Linked DNA regions of Homo sapiens: region 2 is reported to be linked to region 1. Evidence: microRNA targets listed by miRTarBase, many of them from high-throughput screens and not tested one by one. Region 1 holds a microRNA gene; the other region holds the end of a gene's coding sequence.
The links. The annotated mature microRNA hsa-miR-7110-3p reads UCUCUCUCCCACUUCCCUGCAG and lies in region 1 at 2,057-2,078, shown strand. An mRNA with a match to its seed (bases 2 to 7 or 8) in the 3' UTR can be bound and repressed. Matches are read on the target gene's strand: a 7mer-m8 pairs with bases 2 to 8, a 7mer-A1 pairs with bases 2 to 7 and ends in A, and an 8mer does both.

Region 1 (3,410 bases):
GGCCAGGGGAGGCCGCACCTCACTCTTCTCTTCAGCTATCCATCTGGCAGCTCACCTGGGCATGAGGGACATGATGAGTAAACGTGGCCATGGGGGCCCACAGGATTCTCCTACCTGGAAAGGGGCTTTGTCCAAATGCAAATAACCATCAACCAAAGAACTGTGTGAATCATGGTTATTCAATAATTTTAAATTATCTTATTGAATCACCCTCTTTTAATTTCTTCCAAGCATTCATTGAGCTCTATCTAAAATGATCTAATTTGTCATACAGCAGACGCTTGATAACTGGACTTTGTCAAGGTCGACGTTGTCCCCCAGCATCTAGAACAGGCTTGGCACACGGCAGGGTTTCAGTGTGTGTTGCCTGGTAGGAGGACTCATTCTCATGGGAATCTGCCCCATCTTCCATAACACCTCTGTACTGGGTATGGCCATTGAGGACCCCTTCTCGGGCTTCCCTGGTGCATGACCCTCAACCGGAAACAAGTTCCCCATTTCTGCTTTATACTGTCTTCCTTTGAAAAAACAACAAATGATGAGGAAAAGCTACCCAGCATGTGGAATTTGCTAGATGGTCAAGAAGAGGCCAGTGGCCAATGTGGGAACCACTTTCTGACCAAACATTCTGATGGCTTTACTCATGCGGGGCTCCTCCAGTTTCCAGATGTGCTTCCCTGGTCTCCTCCTCTTCCAGTCTTGGCTCAGATGGCGAATCATACAGAGCGCCTTTGCCCCACTCACCTGGCACCTGGACCACCTCCCTCATCCCTCACATCACATCATGTTGGAATTGTCCCTTTATCCAACCCCTGCCCAGACACTGAGCCCCTAAGTGGGGACAGAGCTTGTATATGGGGTTGGAAGAAGTGACTGTAATAGCAGCTGACATTTCCTGACCATGAATCTGGTGCCAGGTTCTGTGCTCACTGGCCTCACTGGAATTCTCTTATTCAGTCTTCACAATATCCTGATAGCCTAGATACTATTATTATCCCCATTTTACAGCTGAAAAAAATGAGGCACCAAGAGGCTGAGTTATTTTCCTTAAGTCTTACTGTCCAGGCAAACCAAGAGTGCACTTGGGGAACTTGACTTGAAAGCTCTTGCCCTTAACCTTGGCACTATACTGTCCCCCCAAGCTAATGTTCCGGAAATATTAGTGGAGAAATGATTAAATCCTACAGTCCCTTACAGATAGCACCACAGAACCTGTGGTGTTTACAAATGCTTTCAAGTCATCATTTCCTTTACGATCATCATACTCTTGATTTTAAAGGACAGTCTAAAGGCACTCCAGGCCGAGTCCCCTAACCTTACCCATCTGGAAATTGAAAACAAGCACCATCAGTCTCCAAGGAGTCCTGAGCTGGGGGTGCTTTGGTTCAGTTCCTACCTGCCACTGAGGAGAAAAATCAGAGTGGGCCTGTGACGTGGACTAGATGTGCAATCTGTGTTGTGGGGTCCAGGCCTCAGCCTGGGGACACCCTGTGCCAACTCTCTTTACCTTGGCTCCTAGATTGCCTGTGCCGCTGTTGACTGTGTCAAAGACAAGAACCAAGACCTGTGCCAGCAGGAGGCGGTCAAGGGCTACCCCACTTTCCACTACTACCACTATGGGAAGTTCGCAGAAAAGTATGACAGCGACCGCACAGTAAGTGGGGGAGAGGCGTCTGCCCAGAGCTCTCTCTCTGCTGATGGGCAGGGAAACTTCCACTGAGGAGGGGCAGCACTGGGCAGCATCCCAGAAACTGCAGAAGTCAGCTGGAACACTGCACCGAGAGGCCCAGGCCCTGGGCCTGGCTGAGGCTTGACATTGTTGGAGGAGAGTCCCAAGGGGTTGCCACAGATGTCCTGTCCCCAGAGGCAGGCTGGACTCCAGATGCCGAGGGTTTTCTCACTTGCTGGTCGGGGCTGGTGCAAGCCACGCAGACCCTCTCCACCTTGCAGAAGTCTGCCCACCTCTCCCTGTCATAGGAGTGACCCCCTGGAGGGGCTGGGGGTGTGGGGAGAGAGAGTGCACAGCCAGCTCAGGGATTAAAGCTCTTTCTCTCTCTCTCTCTCCCACTTCCCTGCAGGAATTGGGATTTACCAATTATATTCGAGCCCTCCGGGAGGGAGACCATGAAAGACTAGGGAAAAAGAAGGAAGAGTTATAATTCCTGCCTCAGAAAAAGCTTTTCCATTACACTGTGAATGATACCTGTTTTGTTGTTTCTGAATTTCCACATGTTCTGAAGACAAATTTTTTATAGCCGCTTATGGCCATTTTGTACAATTTTGAAATAAAATTAAACCATTTATTTGGTGGTATGGTTTATTTTCGTGGAGCCTGTACTAAAAAAGGTGGATACTCACATCCTCCTCATTCCACCACCTCTGCTGGGAGGTACAGAGCAGTGCTCCAGTGCCCCATCTGCATGGAGGTGACTCCTGAGGGTGTCGGCCCCCTGTCAGTCATTTGAGAGCAGAACAGGGAAACTGGACCGCAGAATATCCTGCTGGAAAATGACAAGCTAATGAGAGGAAATACGTCAAGATGATCAATGACTTTGGGAGGCTGAGGTGGGAGGATCACTTGAAGCCAGGTGTTCAAGACCAGCCTGGGAAACATTATGAGACCTCATGTCTACAGAAAATAAAGTTGCTGGGCATAGGGGTACATGCCTATAGTCCCAGCTACTTGTAAGGCTGGGAAGGGAAGATTTCTTGAGCCCAGGAGTTCAAGGCTGCAATGATCTATGATCGCATGACTACTCCAGCCTAGCTAGAAAGCAAGACCTGTCTCAAAAATAGAAAAAGAAAAAGAAAGAAAAAAACAAAAGATGATCAGGGAAATTGGGATGCTGAAGCAAATGGTAACCAAACACTAGCTTCTTCTGGATCATTGCGGTTTCAGCATTGGTGTGTTTCCTCTGTGTGTGTTTTCCTGGAACTTACTTAGGTATTTATCTTTCTCCAGCTATTTGTCTTCTCTTCGTCTCTCCATTCCCTCCCCAATCTCCCTTTAAAGAAAATTAAGTTGCCGCTTCAGGGGCATGAATGGAGTGGGGGAAGGGGGGCTCTGTGCCAGCTGCTTGCTGTGCACCCTGGCTGGAAGGGATGGTGTGTTCTCGAGGTGCAGATATTAGATCTGCTCACCAGCCCCCACCACCAACCATAATAACCCCAAATCTTTACGCCACGTTTTCCATGGATGGGTGCCTTGCTCGGCCTCCTGCCTGTGTACATCTCCTTTTTGACCCACCTTTCTGGTGAGTCCTCCTGCTTTCTGCATTCCTGCGTGACTGACACCCCAGCCCTGTGCCCAGCGGTGCAGGCAGAGCCTGAGCACAGCAGTAACATGTTTTGTCTGCTTGGTGGTATTTCTCCATGGACAGCAGAGTGGCCTTGTGCTAGTATCTTGTCTT
Region 2 (3,410 bases), not on the chromosome of region 1:
TATTTTGGTATGGATAGAAGGTTCTTTACCTTTTATGTCCCACATACCTTTCCATTTTCACTTGCCACTTATTGCAAATACCCTTGATGTTCATTTGTAATAATTATAACAAGCTAAACACTCACAAAGTTGTCACACTAGCATATGATTTACACCCTAATATATATATTACATCAGAGTTTAGAACTAGAACTTCTCACTCAATGCCTGCTCAATTCATTCAACAAAATTCACTAAACATTTAAGTTCCCACTCTGACAAGTATTATTCTAGGCTCATTTGCTAATCCCTAGCATATTTTGGACTATGAAATTCATTTGCAATTGAATATAATATCAGAAGAAATTACAGGGTGATACTGTATACCTAACGATATAAAAAAATTTTGTTTATTGTAGGTACGGCTGCTTTTTTGTGGTATGACAGTGTTAGAAATGATTCGTTTGTAATCTTCTTTGCCTGTTATGGTCAAACTATTATCTAATTATATTTTTAAATTTATCTTTTAGGGACAGTATGGAAATTACCAGCAGTGAAAAAGTACTTACATTCCAGTAGCCAGTATCTATTAGCAGCCATATTGTCACCTCAGCACTGTGGACACCTCCCTGTGAAGAGATCCTTCCATTCCATCTAGTTTTTGGAAAAACCTTGTGGATAAGTGGCTGTTTCATCAGTAAGCAGCCTTTGTGGTTTAGTTATAAAAGGCTTTAGTAGCTCAAAAATACTCTTGATTTCACATTTCTACTCTAGATGGCAACATTGGACAGAAAATGCAATGACATAACCAATTTGTAATGATTTTGGAACTGTGTTTCAAATGGACTGTTACAGACTGAAAGGTGTGAACAGCTTTGTATGTTTATGAAGGGTAAGGGAATTTAATACTTTTCCACAGATTTTTTTGTAAGGGGAAGAGGGAAATGTACACTTTTTACAGCAGCAATATTTTGTATATTATGTTTATTTCATGTGGTGAATATGCAAGGCGGTACACTACGCACTGGACAGCATCAGAAATCCTCTGTTAATGTGGACTGGAACATGGTAGATGCTTGATTGTTTTGGTCTCAAAATGGTGTGCTATAAAGATAAAGGTGAGGGGAAGACAAAGCACACCATATGTCCACTGTTCTGTTCTCATAGAGGAAATTCAAATCCCTTTTATCTATTAGATAATCAAGGGCACTGTGATACAGTTTTGAGTAAAAAGACATTTTTTAAAAGCCTTCCAGTTTTGTGGATTAAACCTTTTTATAAAGATCATTTATAATACTGTTTTAAAATGTGAGGCAATAAGAATTACTTTGTGTTGGATCTGAGGAGGCTTTGGTAAAACAGTTTCATCTAAATGAAAGTGGTAATCCTCTTCTAAAATAGCAATAACTGAAAATGAAAGTGTTAATTTTACCTTGTTTGAGTTATCAGGGAACTTAGTAAGTAATATCAAAGCATTTTATAAATGATATCAAAGAAGAGTCAACATTGATCCAGTCATTTTATTTTGTAATATTGAGGGATAATTGGTTATTAAACTGAATAGTTCAGGAGACTTTACAAACCTTTGTTTCAACTTTCTTATCTGGAAATAATATCATTTATAAAGGGACACTTTTATGTTTTTCCCTTTTTTATGTTGGTTGATATAACACAAAGAGATATTTAGGAAAATGCTTATTGATGAGGTTTATTCTATCTGTTTTTAAAGCACCGAGGTTGCATTCTAGATAACCTTGTTTATTAGCATGGCATATTTTAATCATTATTTGAGACTGTCCTGTGCCTGATTATTTTAGCTAAATTCAGGGAGATTGCGTGGGGCAGGAAAGCATGCATTGAAAAATTTCTAACCACGGTTATTTAAGCATAATCTGAAAACATCTAGCCCAAAGGTAAGTTGCTATTTTCATCACAGTTGCCTATGCCCAGGGAATAAGATGTATTCTTTATAATTGAATTGGTTTTTCCCACGTCTAACTGGAAACAAAACAGAAGGGGCGTCATAAATTTGAATAAGCAGAACATACTGTTCTCAACATACTGTAATCAAAAGGAGGAATTTCAGTGGGTCTCTGTGTGTGTATGAGAGAGAGAGTGTGTGTTTGTGTGTTTCAAGGTCAGAACAGGTTTTTTTGTTTTTGTTTTTTGTTCTTTGTTTTTTTTTTTGAGATGGAGTCTTGCTCTTGTCGCCCAGGCTGGAGTGCAGTGGCGCAATCTCAGCTCACTGCAACCTCCGCCTCCCAGGTTCAAGCAGTTCTCCTGCCTCAGCCTCCTGAGTAGCTGGGATGACAGGCACCCGCCACCACACCCAGCTAATTTTTGTACTTTTAGTAGAGACGAGGTTTCGCCATGTTGGCCAGGCTGGTCTCGAACTCCTGACCTCAGGTGATCCACCCGCCTCGGCCTTCCAAAGTGCTGGGATTACAGGCGTGAGCCACCGTGCCTGGCCAGAATAGGTTTTTTCTTTCAACTTGATCAGTAGAAAATGGACATCAAGTTTGAACAGATAAATCATGGACAGCCTTATTGTGATTGAAATGCTTGTAGGTTCTGTGCCAATTTTCCACCACTGTGTACTTTGTTGCTATTTAAAACTGTATCAACTCTAACGGAAGAATAAATTATTTGTGATTTTAATTTTCTCATTTGTTTCTTTAAATTAGATCTCTTTGACTCTCTTGTCTTGTCTGGAGACTATGCTGTGGGTTTTTATATAAGTTAGTCCAGTATAAGCAGACTATATTTGTATTCTAGGACTTTATCAAAATTCTCTTGCCATGCCCAAGTTAATTAGAATTAACCGTTCAGTAATCAGCATGTTGTGTAGGCTGTTTGTTACAGAATTCTTTCTCCGAAAATGAAGTCCATAAGGCTATAATCAAGATGACTGAATTAGATAAATGAGTTGAGGAGACAAAATTGTACTGAACCCAACCTGGTGTAGTACGTTATCTCATTTGAAATAAGCTCAACTGACATTAAGAAATAATTTGTCTTGCCAACCCATCTTCTGTTGTCTTATTCTCCTTTTAATGGAAACTAAAATTGCAATTTTAATAAGCAGAATTTCCTCCAGGACTTTCTTCCTGGAGACTAGTGCATTTGCAAGGTTTAATTGTTTTATAACAGTCCTATTTTGTAAAAGTTTTTAATTGGTGGTGACAAAAATTACCTTACTCCTCTGATACCTAGTAAGAGGAATAACTTTACCAGTAGCTGTCTACTAGATTTGACATTTCTGTACAGACTATATATTCTACAACTGAAATTTGCATTTTATCGAAGTAATAATATCATACTATCCCATAAAATTCCAGAAACAAAGTATTACCAAGAAAAGAGTGGGGTCACTATTAAACATTTCAAAATATGCTAAGTGTGTTAGTTCTGTTATTTGGGAATATGTTATT

Region 2: miRTarBase lists SS18 as a target of hsa-miR-7110-3p. Seed matches in the 3' UTR shown: 8mer at 2,085-2,092, 8mer at 2,087-2,094 and 7mer-m8 at 2,089-2,095.

The regions. Positions count from the first base shown.
Region 1 is chr3:123,159,802-123,163,211 of GRCh38, forward strand. MIR7110 (microRNA 7110) reads left to right here and starts at 1,993; the gene lies at 1,993-2,078. It overlaps PDIA5 (protein disulfide isomerase family A member 5), which reads left to right. Exons shown (of 17, transcript NM_006810.4): 16 at 1,520-1,654; 17 at 2,079-2,303. The coding sequence ends at 2,159.
Region 2 is chr18:26,015,480-26,018,889 of GRCh38, reverse strand. It overlaps SS18 (SS18 subunit of BAF chromatin remodeling complex), which reads left to right. Exons shown (of 11, transcript NM_001007559.3): 11 at 510-2,637. The coding sequence ends at 536. Among named protein-coding and RNA genes, the nearest start is that of SS18, 73 kb to the left of the region's middle.